Linked DNA regions of Homo sapiens. The protein of the gene in region 2 purifies or fractionates together with the protein of the main gene of each other region. This does not show direct contact. Each region holds a gene or a part of one and is shown on either strand. Other genes may lie near its edges.

Region 1 (3,809 bases), on a different chromosome or scaffold from region 2:
GGAGAGGAGAATTTGCAAACAAGTGAGGGAGTCCAAATGGCGTGGCCCTTTCCAGGAATGGTCAGTTGCTTGCAGGAGAGGTCACAGCTGCGCAGGCGCTCATGGCCAGACTCCGTGTCCACCTGCTGGGTGACACACCCATGGCACAGGCAGATGGAAGCCCTAAGCCCCCACCTCACTGGCCACACAGACGGAGGGGGTGTCATTCCTGGTGGTGTCTTTCCCACCAAGGCGCTCACCTGTGCCCTGGGCTGTGTACAAACGTGTGTGTGCATGGGTGTAAGAGAAGGGGTGGGTAGAGCGAGAGGAGAGGAGAACAGGACAGAGAGGAAGTATAATATCTGGGAATGAGGTGCACAGGCTCCCACTGGGCACTTTGCAGAAAGAGCCTTTGCTTTAATAAGTATGCACGTGTGAGAGTGTGTGAGTGTGGGCGCGTGCACCGGTGCGTGTGTGTGTGAGAGCGTGTGTGTGGACACATGAGCTGGTGCATGTGTCGGTGCGTGTGAGAGCGTGTGAGTGTGGGTGTGTGAGCTGGTGTGTGTGTGAGTGCATGAGTGTGGGTGCGTGAGCTGGTGCCTGTGTTGGCATGTGTGAGAGTGTGTGAGTGTGAGCACGTGAGCCGGTGCATGTGTTGGCGTGCATGAGAGTGTGTGAGTGTGGGCGCGTGAGCCGGTGCATGTGTTGGCACACGTGAGAGTGCATGAGTGTGGGCGCGTGAGCCGGTGCGTGTGTGTGAGCGCGTGTGGGCGCGTGAGCTGGTGCGTGTGTTGGAGGATGTGAGAGCACGAGGGTGGGCACGTGAGCTGGTGCGTGTGTGTGTGAGAGCGCATGAGGGTGGGCGTGTGAGCCAGTGCTTGTGTTGGCACGCATGAGAGTGAGGGGCGTGTGAGCCAGTGCATGTGTTGGCACGTGTGAGAGCATGTGAGGGTTGGCGTGTGAGCCGGGGCATGTCAGTGTGTGTGAGTGTGGGCGTGTGGGCCGGTGCGTGTGTCGGCGCACGTGACAGCGTGAGTGTGGGCGCGTGTCTGTGAGTGCGAGTGTGGGCGTGTGAGTTGATGCATGTGAGTGTGTGAGTGTGGGTGTGTGTGAGTGAGTGTGGGCACGTGAGTTGGTGCGTGTGTGTGTGAGAGTGTGGGCGCGTGAGTTGGTGCGTGTGGGTGTGAGAGTGTGTGAGTGGGGCACAGCCAGGGTGTGCTTGTTTGGCCGGCAGGGCTGAGTGCCTCCCCGAGGGCCAGGTAGGTGACCGAGGGGTATTTACAGACCCTCCCTCTGGAGGGTCACCTGTCCATCAGCAGCCCTCCAGAGAGGGCAGATTTGATGAAACGAGACAAAGTTCTTCTCCCCTCAGCCTTGAAAACGCCCCGCCAGGCTGGACGAGCAGGAAGGTAGAGCGGTTAATATAAATAGATATCGTGATGAAAGAACACGATCATCTTAGGGGAAAAGCTCCCAGCTGGAGTCGAAGGAGATCAGGCAGCCGACGATTTCTGGTGAGCAAGAAGCTTGCTGAAATCATTGTTTCCACCACGCCGTGTTTAGGAAGCAAATTGTCCTACAGAGAGAGACACTCGCCGGGATGTGTGTGTGTGGTGTGCGTGTCTGTGGTGTGTGTGTGCGTGTGTGTGGTGTATGTGCATGTGTGTGGTTTGTGTGGTGTGTGTAGTGTGGGTGTGTGTGTGGTGTGGGTGTGAGTGTGTGTGGTTGTGTGTGGGTGTGTGGTGTGGGTGTGTGTGGTGTATGTGTGCATGTGTGTGGTTGTGTGTGGGTGTGTGGTGTGGGTGTGTGTGTGGTGTTTGTGTGCATGTGTGTGGTTGTGTGCATGTGTGTGGTGTGGTTGTGGGTGTGGTGTGTGTGTATGTGCATGTGTGTGGTGTGGGTGTGTGTGCGTGTGGGGGGTGTGGTTGTGTGTTTGCATGGGGGGGTGTGGGGGGTGTGCATGTGTGTGTGCTGTGTGTGCATGTGTGTGATTGTGTGTGTACGAATGTGGTGTGTGGTTGTGTATGTGCATGTGTATGAATGTGTGTGGTTGTGTGTGTGCGTGTGTGTGGTGTGTGTGCATGTGTATGAATGTGGTGTGTGGTTGTGTGTGCTGTGTGTGTGCATGTGTAGATGTGTGTGTGTTCCTCCCTTTTTTCTTAGAAAAACAAGAGGCAAAAGACAAGCTGGTGATTCGCTGACAACCGTTCACAGGCCTTTAGGAAAATGGCCGGAACCCCCAGGCCGCTGGGTCCTGGAGTCTAGCTGGGCCGGCACTGCCCTCTCCTGTTGAGAGAAGATGCTGGCACTCGCCAGCCAGAGCCGGGCACTGCCGCTTCCATCCCAGTCTGAGGAGGTTCCCAGTAGTAGGATTTTCACTTTTCTCAAGCAGGGAATAGTCCCTCTGCATAGGGCTCCTGCCCGGGGTGACCTCCTATCCATGTCCACCTCCAGCCATCTCCAAAGGGTAGTTGAGTACTGCCAGGAGCCCCAAAGTCCGGGATCCCCGAGTTGGGGCCTCCTGAGAACCTCAGGAACTGTCTGTGTCAACCCAGAGGCTGCCTTCTCCGGGGTGCAGGCAGCAGGATCTGGTGCGGAGAGGGGAGGTGGGAGGACACTAGGAACACTGTGAACTTCTAGAGAGCAGGAGGCACAGTCTGCGTGGTCAGCGTCCTGCCCCCACCCCTGCTAGAACAGCTGCAAAAGTGAAGACGAAGGCAGGGCGGGCCCTGAGCCAGCTTGCCCTGAATCCACTGATGGAGTGGCAGACACCATCACATGCATTCGCTTTCCCCGTGCCCCGCCCTGGAGAGCAGGTTCACCTTCCCCAGGGACTTCTGAAAATCTTGGCTCCTAAACTAGCAACACCGTGGGGTAGGAGGGTGGAAACAGCAGTGGCAAGCCCATTCTCCAGCAAAGAAGGTGGCGGCACAGCAGGAACTGTACCAACCGGCCCCCCGATCTGTGCTGGTCACTGGAGGCCAGTCTTGGGTGGGGCGCATGCACACACACATATGTTTCCACATGCTCATGTGTGCACACGTGTGCACACTCAGACACGCACGCTTGCAGAATACACACACGCCTGCCCAGACACGGACACTTACGCACACAGACACACATGCACCTGCCTGTGTATTTGTGTGTACGCACACACGCATGTATGCACAGTACACACATATACACCCATGCCCACGCACATGCACCCAGACAGACTGCTTCCAGCCCCAGCCTCGCCCCTCCAGCGGCTGGCTTTCCCAGTAATTTCATGTGGCGTTTTCAGCAGGGTTTCCCGGTCATTTCATGCGGGTTTGTCTTGGCTTCTGCTGATGTTTTAGGTGAGGTCTGCCACAAGTCCTACACGCAGTTCTCCAACCTGTGCCGGCACAAGCGGATGCACGCCGACTGCCGCACGCAGATCAAGTGCAAGGACTGTGGCCAGATGTTCAGCACTACCTCCTCCCTCAACAAGCACCGGCGCTTCTGCGAGGGCAAGAACCATTACACGCCGGGCGGCATCTTTGCCCCGGGCCTGCCCTTGACCCCCAGCCCCATGATGGACAAGGCAAAACCCTCCCCCAGCCTCAATCACGCCAGCCTGGGCTTCAACGAGTACTTTCCCTCCAGGCCGCACCCGGGGAGCCTGCCCTTCTCCACGGCGCCTCCCACGTTCCCCGCACTCACCCCCGGCTTCCCGGGCATCTTCCCTCCATCCTTGTACCCCCGGCCGCCTCTGCTACCTCCCACATCGCTGCTCAAGAGCCCCCTGAACCACACCCAGGACGCCAAGCTCCCCAGTCCCCTGGGGAACCCAGCCCTGCCCCTGGTCT
Region 2 (3,262 bases):
TCCCCATCTACCCCTGGCTCGCTATATAGCACCAACCTACAAATACCTGGGGGAGAGGGGTTTTTCTCTAGATCCTGAGGCCTCTCCCCATGGTGGGGCTAGCAAGATCCGTTATGTCCCTATCCCACTGGCCTTCACACCTGCCCAGGCACCCTCCCAGGAGAGGTCAGGGACCTGAGGCGGCCCAGATGCCAGAAAGTCTCACAACCCAGATGAGGCGGTTGCCCCTCGAGGTCAGGGCTCAGAAACTGCCCAGCTAAGCCCCTCAGCCTCAAAGTGAGGAAACTCCTGCAAGGGGAATGGGGTGCTCCCTGACTCCCCCGCAAGGGGAATGGGGCGCTCCCTGTCTCCCAGGCAGGTGGGTTGCTGTGACCATGTGGATGCTTTTACCTGCCCTAGTTCTGTGTCTGGGTGGGGGGAAAGCTCAACAAAGGGGAGTGAAACCCCTAAACCCCCTGGCTTGTGGGACCCTCCCTGGGTTGTTTTTACCCAGAAACTGAGTGGTTCAATCATCCCTTTACCACTCTGAGCATCGGTTTATTCAGGACCAAGAACGTTCCTTCAAGTCAGCTGTGAAATCAGCTCTTGAAACCAGGCATCTTGTCTACCACGCCTCACCTGGACTCCACCCCAGCCCTAGGGTGGCCGGCGCCTGGCCATCCAGGGGACCAGGCTTGTTGCCACCTCCAGGCTCGCCTTGCCCTTCCCAGACCCACAGGGACCACCTAGGCCAGGCCTTTATTCCCAGACCCCGAGGCTACTTGGGGGTCCGGATAAGGGTGTGGTATACGGGCTTGACGATGAGGTGCAGGTGCAGGGCGTTCTCAACCAGGTACTCGGAGTTGCGCCGCTGCAGGTCGGCGTGCGCCAGGAAGTCGCCGGCCTCCTCGCTGCTCTGGTGGAAGCTGTAGGCGTGGCGGACCAGCAGGCGGCCCTGCTGGCGCGCCCCCACCAGCACCGTCTTCTGGAAGCTCACGCCCGCCGCGTCGCCGCCGCTGCTGGCCGGCGTCACCACCAGCCGCGGTCGGCCGTCCTCCGGGCGCGCGGCGGGCAGAGCAGTGCCCGCGGCGTCCGCGTAAACGGGCCGCAGGCTGACGGGCAGCCAGCGCGGCGAGAAGAGCACGTTCCAGGTGACCCGGCGGCCCGCGTCGTGGCCACTCGGGCCCAGCTGCGTCTGGAAGCTGGTGCTGCGGTCGTCGCGGGCCGGGTTGTTGATGACCCACGGGGCGCCCCAGGCGGGCGCGAGGTAGTTGCGGGGCAGGAAGGCGCTGCCGTTGACGTCGAAGAACTTGGCGTAGTGCAGCGGCGACGCGGCGTGGAACTGGTAGGCCTGCAGCAGGAGGTCGGCCACCGCGGGGCCGTGGCGCGCCAGGGCTGCCGAGCGCGCCTGCAGCTGGAACAGCTGTGCCGGTGGGATCATGGGGTAGCGTATGGCGCGCAGCGCCCGCTCGGCCACGGCAGGGGGCGGCCGCGCGCGACCCAGCCAGGCCTCCAGCGCGTGGAACAGCTCCAGTTCATCCTGCAGCACCAGGTCCGAGCGTTGCAGGAGCTGCCAGAGCAGCTCGGGGCTCACGGCGCCCCACTCGGTGCTGGCCGCCACGGCCGACAGGTTCCAGGCCAGGAACTGCAGGCAGCTCTCGCGCAGGGCCTCGTCCCCGGTGCCCACCGCGTAGTGGTACCAGCCCACCGCCGGGCCCGCGCCTCCCGCCAGGTGCGCGCGCATGTAGTCGGCCACGCCGCGCTGCAGGGAGGACACGCCGTACTTGGTGGCCAGTCTGTGCAGGGGGATGGCCTGGGTCAGCAGCACGGTCAGCTCCCCGCAGTACAGGTACCTGCGGGAGAGACCGAGAGGTGGGGCGGGGTCAGGGCGGTACCCACCTCCCAGGATAGATTTTTTAGAGTCCACAGGGGACCCGGCCTGGAGTTGGAGCTTCACTGTCCGGGTGCAAACACAGTGGAAGCCCCACCCTGAGGCTTCCCATGTTTTCCTTTCAAGGACCCTTCCAGGCCATTCTTACTTCACAGGCTCTTCTTTCCGTTTCCGCGGTGATGTAGAAATTGCCTGCATTGACTGTGCCTCTACTAGGCGTGCAGCCCTAGGCTGGAACAAAACAGACGTGGCTCCTGCCTTTGGGGTTTCCAGTCTGGTTGGGATCCATGGCCTGCCTTCTCCTTGCCATGAGTCTGGGCAAGTCACTTAACTTCAGTGAACCTTAGGCTAATCAATCACCTAGGAAAGGGGGAGTGGCACACACCCCTCAGGGTTACTGTGACAACCAGAGGAGAATAAAGAATCTTGCTACAGGCCAGGTGGGTGCTAGTGGCTCACACCTGGAATCTCAGCACTTTGGAAGGCCAAGATGGGAGGATTGCTTGAGGCCAGGAGTTCAAGACCAGCTTGGGCAACATAGCAAGACCCTATCTCTACAAAAAATAAAAAATGTTAAAACATTAGTCATGTGTGGTGGTGCACGCTTGTAGTCCCAGCTGCCTGGGAGTCTGAGGTGGGAAGATAGCTTCAGCCTAGGAGTTCAAGGCTGCAGTGAGCTATGATCATCATGCCACGACACTCCAGCTTTTTTTTTTTTTTTTTTTTTTTTTGAGATGGGGTCTTTCTGTATTGCTCAGGTTGGTCTCAAACTCCTGGACTTGAGCAGTCCTCCCACCTTGGCCTCTCAAAGTGCTGGGATTACAGGTGTGAGCCCCCATTTCTTTTTTGCAGCCTCACCTTTCTTTTTCCTCTCCTACTGTTGGTGATCACTTCTGCTGAGTATCTCTTCGTCTTACTTCTGCCACTGTCCCATGGCTCACCTTTCCTGCCAGTCCCCACCGGCACACGGCACCGCACTTGCCTCTATAGGAGTGTGGCAGCCACTGCCAGCCATCTTCCCCAACGTCCATTTCTCCCCTTTCCCCTGCGTGATTGCCTCTGGGAATAAAAGACCACATTTCCCAGGCTCCCTCATTCTGGCCTTGGCCATGTGACTAACTGCTGGTCAATGGGCGCAGTTTGGGATTTGCAGGAAGGCTGATTAAATGCAACTGATTCCGGGTTAACAGGAAGACCCTTTTTGCCCTTCTGTCTTATCCCCTTTCCTGTTGCCTGGAACTTGGAAGCAATGTATGGAATTCTGCAGGCATCTCGTCTGAGCCGTTAGAACAGAGTTACTTTCTTAGACACTAGTGTGAATGGCACCCCCTGAGCAGCATCACGGCAGGAGGCAGGAGGTGGAGAGAGCCGTCTAACTTTTTCAGCTCCCTA

The links.
Region 1: the proteins of BTBD17 (region 2) and PRDM16 purify together in Homo sapiens (affinity purification with mass spectrometry; one large-scale study listed by BioGRID and IntAct). This does not show direct contact.

Annotation. Positions count from the first base shown.
Region 1 is NC_000001.11:3,408,067-3,411,875, forward strand, and holds part of PRDM16 (histone-lysine N-methyltransferase PRDM16), read left to right. Parts: intron 1-3,317; coding exon 3,318-3,809. UniProt on the Homo sapiens protein: Binds DNA and functions as a transcriptional regulator. Displays histone methyltransferase activity and monomethylates 'Lys-9' of histone H3 (H3K9me1) in vitro.
Region 2 is NC_000017.11:74,355,900-74,359,161, forward strand, and holds the end of BTBD17 (BTB/POZ domain-containing protein 17 precursor), read right to left. Parts: intron 1,833-3,262; coding exon 758-1,832; 3' UTR 517-757; downstream 1-516.